Homo sapiens: one gene and its partner. The protein of the gene in region 2 purifies or fractionates together with the protein of the main gene of each other region. This does not show direct contact. Each region holds a gene or a part of one and is shown on either strand. Other genes may lie near its edges. The genes, in order: RMND5A and CORO2A.

Evidence for each region.
Region 1: the proteins of CORO2A (region 2) and RMND5A purify together in Homo sapiens (affinity purification with mass spectrometry; one large-scale study listed by BioGRID and IntAct). This does not show direct contact.

Annotation. Positions count from the first base shown.
Region 1 is NC_000002.12:86,768,472-86,772,290, reverse strand, and holds part of RMND5A (E3 ubiquitin-protein transferase RMND5A), read right to left. Parts: intron 2,269-3,819; coding exon 2,166-2,268; intron 734-2,165; coding exon 579-733; intron 1-578.
Region 2 is NC_000009.12:98,133,557-98,137,375, forward strand, and holds part of CORO2A (coronin-2A), read right to left. Parts: intron 1,400-3,819; coding exon 1,250-1,399; intron 1-1,249.

The DNA of each region.
Region 1 (3,819 bases), on a different chromosome or scaffold from region 2:
TTTTTAGTAGAGATGGGATTTCACCGTGTTAGCCAGGATGGTCTCAATCTCCTGACCTCGTGATCCGCCTGCCTCGGCCTCCCACAGTGCTGGGATTACAGGCATAAGCCACCACACCTGGCCTTCACTTAGCACTGTTTAGAGAAACAAATGTTCATCAATAGGGAACTGGCTACCCAATCATATTTCTATACAGTAGAATATACTGCAGCTTTAACAAAAAAATAATGAGGGCTGTTTCTGCAGCACAGAAAAAGATCTCCAAAATACATCACTAAGTGAAAACAGCAAAGTACAGAACATTTTTTAGTATGCGACCATTTGTATAAAAAAGGGGAAAATCTATCACCTACCCCAAAAGTTAAGTTAAAGACATGCTTATAAATCTAATCACCAAATCCATAGACACATTAAAAATACTCAAATCAGATACCACCAACTTTGCCAAATGAATAGTTAAGAAATTTATTTAGTTCTAAATCTAGCTACATTTTTTTAATCCTCATCACTTCTTATCCTCCTACCAAGTTCCAAAACAAAATTTATTTGCTAACATTTTTTAAAAGTCAGACACTTACTTGCTACCATTAAACATTTTATTCAGGGCATCTCTTGATATAATATGACCACAGACCAATTTCATGGGTGGATTGTTATCTGTTGTTTGCTGACGAAGAATGGGGCAGGCAAATATAGAGTGATACCAGCACTTTTTACCAAGGTCCACTTCAATCTGTTAAAAAAAAAAAAAAAAGTAAAAAAGCTGAAGTCATATTTCACAAAACCATCCACATGGTAATATACACTGTGCAGCAAAGAACATTGATCAGATCTATTCACCTGAATGTAACTTTCTATAGCACTCTTCTAACTCAGATGGACAGTCTTAGTGATTCAAAGTGTTAAATTAGCCTTCAAGATTATTTTCAAGAAAGCTGACAAAGTGTAAAAACAAGTCTGACAAACAATGACCTGATCACCACCTCTAATGGCTTTACTGGCTTGACACACAGTCTTTAGGTGAATTCAGATTTCAGTCTGCTCTTAGTGCATGTCAGAGATGCTTACAACATAAATGGGAAACTGCCAGATGCCAGGCACCTGCCTCCACAAAACAAGTGAAGGCTCAAGTTCTTTTCACTTGTTCAAGTTAGCGGCAGTAGAGCAGGAGTGCTACTTGTGTCCTGACCACACTCAGGACCAGGACTGCACCTGTGCCTTTAATCAGAAAAGATCTTTGAGGAGAAGCTGGGGCAACCAACTGACAGGGTTACCTGCTGGAAGAACAAGGTAACTGCAAATAAACCCGTGTACAGGTGTGGTATAAAACGGGCAAAAAAACAAATGCGTATGTTAGCTTTTCAGGGTCTGTGACACAATCATGACAGGAACGACAATTCCAGGCCAGAGCCTCAGTGCCTGTCAGAGACCTGGTGGAAACATACATACAATGACCTTCGCCACTTCACATCATAACTGCACCATGGCAGCCACAATTTGAGTGCCTACCATGTATCCCGTCTTATTCTAAGCATGCTTATGTTATCTCTAGCCTTCAGCAGCCCCATAAAGAGAAAGCTGGTGCTTGTCTTAGAGATGAATACACTACTGCTTAGAGAAGTTCTAGAGTTGGCAAGTGATCGTGCTGATGTTTAAAACCATGGTCCTTTCCATGAGAGCAGTAGAAATACAGTACTAGAGACCCACTGATGACTGCAGGTGTTACGACCTTTAAGAGCTCTATACTTATTCTATTGGCAAATGTAACCAGCACAAACTCGTGATCTTATCGACAGCAATAGTTAAGACAAAAGTAAAACCAATTAAATTTGCGTTTATATTAGAAAAACAATCACAGGAGTGGTCTGTGAACTGCACTGCAGAACACACTGCCTGCTACTGTATGTACAGCCCTCCCCACTTCTGATGTTTCCCTTCACCAGCTTTCAAAGGCACTTCAAGTCAAAATTATAATACTCCTCCTCCAGGGTCCCCAAAATGTACTAGGCTCTTCATTTGTATTGTTTAATCTTTTATATATCCATAAAAGAACTCCTGTCAAATGGCTACAATGTTTCCTGGTTAAAAGGTAAGATGAACATTTAAAGATGCCATATTCTTCTAATGGCAGTAAAAGTAAATAGCCAATAGAAAATGGAACTCACAGGTAATTCATCTTTCTGGTTCCAAACTCCAGTACACTGCCTCTGTTCAATCACGGCTTTGATGTTAATTAAAGCTGGCAGCGCCACACAACCTGCTGAGAAACTGGGAGAGCAGAAGAGGAAACGTCAGTGCCAGGCCAGGGGTCAGGCCGCTTGGTCCAAGGAGACATCAATTTCTCCAGACTCTATGTGCTGCAGACCCTGGCCACTGGACAGGGTGAGAGCTTTCTGTTCTGCTAAAAGTAAATCCAGCCATTTCCACTAGAAGAGAAATAACTTGTTTTCCCTCCCCTTCTTCCCCAGGCCCACTGGTATATTTCCTGAAGTTACTGAAAACCAATCCCAGTTAAAAAACAAAACAAAAAATAAAACTCTAAATTTTCTAAATAAACCTCACCAATATGGGGGTAAATGCAGTTAAAGAACGCAAACGTTAAAAAAAAAAAACTCATCTGCTAGGGTAATTTAACTTTAGCTTACTTCCTCAGAAAATAGAAAAATAAAGTTTTAAAACATGCATTTTAAAAAAGAAAGCAGCTTTGGAGAACCAATTAATTCAAATGAAGAGCAGGAATTAAGAACTACTACACTCTTCCAAATACAGTAGTTTTAGCATCTGAGTTTGAAGGAAAAAGAGATGTTCTTGCACAAAATTCTTCACTCAGCAATATACAAGACATAACTTCCTTTCCTATTCCCTTCCTTACAGACCATATACCACCAGACTTATTTTTCTTACAAAATGTGCTCCAAGGTATACGCTAATTAGAACAATGATACTCAAAATGTGGTCTGCAGATGGTGCTGATTTACACACCATTTTCAATCCACAGGAAAGAAGTACAGAATTGAGAATAAGGTTTTTAGAGAATTTAATAACAGCAGATGGTGGTGGCTCACTCCTGTAATTGCAGCACTTTGGGAGGCCAAGGTGGGAGGATTACCTAAGTTTGAGAGTTTGAGACCAGCCTGGGAAACACAGTGAGACCCCCGTCTCTACAAAAGATATAAAAATTAGCCATTAGCCAGGTATGGTAGCATGTGCCTAGAGTCCCAGCTACTGAGCAGGCTGAGGTGGGAGGATGCCAGGAGGTTGAGGCTGCAGTGAGCCACGATCGTGCCACTGCACTCCAACCTGGGCAACAGAATGAGACCCTGTTTCAAAAAGTAAAATATAAAGAATTTCATAATAATCTTACATTAGTGCCAAAAAAGGTTTTATATTGCACAAAACAACTGGATTTAATGGGCTCAGCTTATCAGTCAAATGACATGCTTGCTCCTGAAACATTTTTTTTGCATAGTTCCTCTTATCCCCAGATCACCCCTGTCCAGGGTGGAAGCACTCATTTCTCAGATCTGGAAGTGTTGGCAGCCAACTCTCAGCTGTGTCCGTCTCTTCAGGACTGTCCTCAGTTGAAGAGAGTCATCTGACCAGAGTCACATCCAGCAATTGCTCCATGTGAGGGTACAAAACCCCAGCCCTATAGGCCCAATTTGGGACAACTCCACGGGCCCACAGCAGCTCCAGAGCTCCTCACGGATGGGAGACACCTTGTTGCCACTCTAATACAGTCCAACTTTCCTCTCTGCCCAATCCTGCTGTTTTCATTCTCCCACAGGTGCTGATGTCAGTAAACTTTCTGCATGTACA
Region 2 (3,819 bases):
TGTTTAGCTGCACAGGCTGTGCATGCAGAGGTCCAGGGCAATCCATTCCTATAGACTAGGACGTGACTAGTGCCCCCTGAAGTTGGGTATAGAACAACCAGCACAAATACACGCAGCAGCTCTGCAGACACCCCATACAAACAGATGAGAAAGCGCTGTGGATCGGAAGAGCGAGGGCCCAGGTTCCCTCAGTGCTCCCCACAACAATTTTAGTTATTTATTTTTGAGACAGGATTGCCCAGGCTGCAGTACAGTGGCATGATCATGGCTCACTGTAGCATCAACCTCCTGGGCTCAAGTGATCCTCCCACCTCAGCCTCCTGAGTAGCTGGGACTACTTGACGCATTTTCCCACACCTGGCTAATTTTTTCTATTTTTTTGTAGAGATGGGGTCTCACTATGTTGGCTGGTCTCAAATCCTTGGGCTCAAGTGATCCTCCCACCTCAGCCTCTCAAACTGTTGGGATTACAGGTGTGAGCCACCATGTCCGGCCCCCCACCTCCCTTTTATCCAACACAGAGGGTCCCGAGGTGTCTCTGTAAACCCCTATAGTGTCAAAAGGAAAGAACTGAAAGGCCATAGCTATGGTGCCACCAATTCCATTTGTGTACAGATTGGGAAACTGAGGCCTAGAGAAGTCAAGGCACTTTCCCAGGCTATAGTGCAGGTCAGAGACTGAGTCGGAATAGAATTGAGGTCTCCTGTACTGTGGGTCCCAATCTACAGGGCCTACTGCCTGCATGCTTGATTGTCAGTGGAGCAGGGTCGGGGGAACGATTTTCTGGGCAGTGCCATCCCATCCACTCCGGGCAGGCTATAATGAGTTGAACAGGGTTCCCCCCAAAACTCATGTCCACCTGGAACCTCAGAATGTGACCTTATTTGGAAATGGGGTCTTCGCTGCTGAAATTAGTTAAGATGAGATCATAATGGATTAGGTGGGCCCTAAATCCAATGATAGTTGCTCTCCTCTTCCTATAAGGAAGACAGGTACACAGAGAGAAGGCCGTGTGAAGACAGAAACAGAGCCTGGAGTGACGCAGCTATAGCCAAGGATGCCTGGAGCCACCAGAAGCTGGGAGAGGCATGGAAGGATTCTTCCCTAGGGCATCTGGAGGGAGCTGGCTCTCCCAACACCTTGATTTTCGATTTCTGGTCTCCAGAACTGTGACAGAATACATTTCCATTGTATTCCAGTTTGTGGGAACTTGTTGGGGCTGCCCCAGAGAAAGAATACCCAGACTCACCTTGTAGTCATAGCCAGCACTGAAGAGGATGTTGGCGGCCGTGGGGTGCCACTCCACCAGGCCTACTCTGCGCGCGTGGCCCACGAGTTCCTTCCTGTAGGCCGTGAGGTTCCTGGTCAGCAGCTGCTTGGGGATGCTCCAGATCTTAATCTGGCAGGGGAGACAGGGCCCAAGGCAGCATTAGCCAGGGCACCTTGGCACCGTCACCAGCCTAAGCCACAGATCTGGCAGTGACCAGCAGAAGGACCAAGGGAGCTCTCTCCATAGCCACCTCCCACTCAGTGGCTATGGGCATTGAGGGGCAGTGGAGGGGCAGCTGAGGGTCCTCAGACAGACAGGGGCTTCCCCAAGCTCCTCCAGCCTGAGCAGGGGCCAGCGCTGACCAGGGATGAGTCTAGGCCTCCAAATCTGCCCTTGAGAGATCTTTGTCATCCTGCTGGCCTGAGGTGGTGGGCAGGTGGCTGGGTTTCAGGCCTGTCTCCTAAGCTAGGATATCCCCAAAGTACAGTGTTCTTCTTGTCCCAAAGACCCAGGGTAGAGCCTCAAATGCCAGGATGAAGGGTTTAGGCTGCATCCTCAGGCACTAGGGAGCCGGCGAGGTCTCTGCAGCAGGGCAGGGACAAACTTCTTGCTTTGGAGGTGCACCCTGGATGGCCTGCAAGAGGAAACTCTGAAGGTCAGGAGGCTGGGCTGGATGGGGTCATGGGCCTGTATTTCATGGTGAGGGCCTGAGAAGAGGTGCTGGGACTTCCTTCCAGAGTAGTGTTGTCTGAAGATGGAGGGGGCTGCCATGGCAGAGAGTAAGCTCCCTGTCACAGAGGTATACAAATGGAGTACAAGGTGATCCTGGGATGCTGCTGACTTGATCTTCCTTATTGGTCCTGCAAGGTTCTCTGGCCCCTAGTTGATTGTATGCACTGTTTCCCTTAGAGGTATACAGGTTTTTCAGGTAGACGACTTTGCTTTCAATTCAGCAAATATTTATTTCCTGGTCATCTTGGATTTAAAACCAGGAAGCCAACCCCACGAGAGTAGTGACAGGCTCCAGATACTTCGGTCTGATGAGGGCTGTCACTGCATAGAACCCCGGGAGGAAGACACACTCTGAAGAGGTATGTTTGGAAGATGAAGGTACCACCCGCAACACTGAAGCAGAGAAGACTCCCCACTGCTAGAGGAGCAACCGTGCCCTCCAGGCCCTGAAGGCAGGGAGGAACACCCCATAAATTCACTGTGGGCATAGCTTCGGGGAGGAAAGCCCCTTCCTTCTTCAGTCCCCCAACAGTCACGTCCTGCCCTGGGGCATCGGGGAAGGGGCAGTGGCAGGCAATGAGGCTAGCAAGAGATTTATAAAGATCTTGATGGGAGCCTTCAAAGCAGTCCTGAAAAGGCAGGTATCACAAAAGTGGGGACAGTTTCAGATATTTGATATCCTGCCAGAGGCCCTATACTCCCTGGGGACAGGGCCAATTCTCACAGGACCTGATTGTCCCTTTGGTGAAATCACCTCGGCAGACACTGTCCTTTACGTTCCTCAGCATCTGCTATATGGAAACCGACACAAATCCTCTTTGAATTTTCTGCCTTCCTTTCCTGATGAACTGGTCTGCTTCTTTTGATCTAACTGAAGGTTTTGCAATACATTCTGTTGCCCATTTTGCCTTGGCTGCCAGGTAGCTCTTAGCTAAACTAGCAGCTTAGCTGCTGCAACCCTTCTTAGCCATCATTTCTAGTATTTCCTCAGTTTCTCCATCTGTGGCTGCTTCTCTTTAAAGATGTGTCACAGCACATTGGAAAGAGAATGGGCTGTGGAATCAGACAGGCCTCAGTCTGAAGTCTTGCTCTGCCTCCCACAGGCTGTGTAACATTAGGCAAATTGCTGTACCTCTCTGATCCTCAGCTTCTCCATCAGAAAAATATCCTACCTTGTGGGGTTGCTGGGGAGACTGTGAAATGATAAGTGTGATGACAGTTAGGAATACAGTGGGCTCACAATAAATGGTGACAATGACTTTTATCTTTATTTTAATCATCTGATCATATCTGTGTTTTTTAATTTTTTAATAGAGACAGGGTCTCACTATGTTGCCTAGGTTGGTCTCCAACTCCTGGCCTCAAGTGATTCTCCCACCTCAGTCTCCCAAAGTGCTGAGATTACAGGTGTGAGCCACTGAACCTGGCATATCTGTGGTTCTTGTCTTAAGCCATACCACCATATTTTAGAAGTGGGTACAAAATGAATTGTAAATAAGTAACACTGAACATTGTTGGGGCAGGGATGATAACCCTGGTACAGAACACGGGCTCAAAAAAGTGAGTGAGACTGAAGCTGCTGGAATGGTTTTAGTGTCCACATTCATCCAAGGCCCTCACAGCCTTTTATAGCTCGCTTCCTCACTATGGGATTAAGTGGAACATCTTTTCTGATCACCATAAAAATGCCCCTCATAGCCTTTTATAGCTCCCCGAAGGATGGGTTTTCCCATCGGAATATACATTTTCACTGGGCTTTATTAGCTGGGTGGAACTATTATGCCCATTTTATATGGGGGGGAACTAAGGCCCATAGA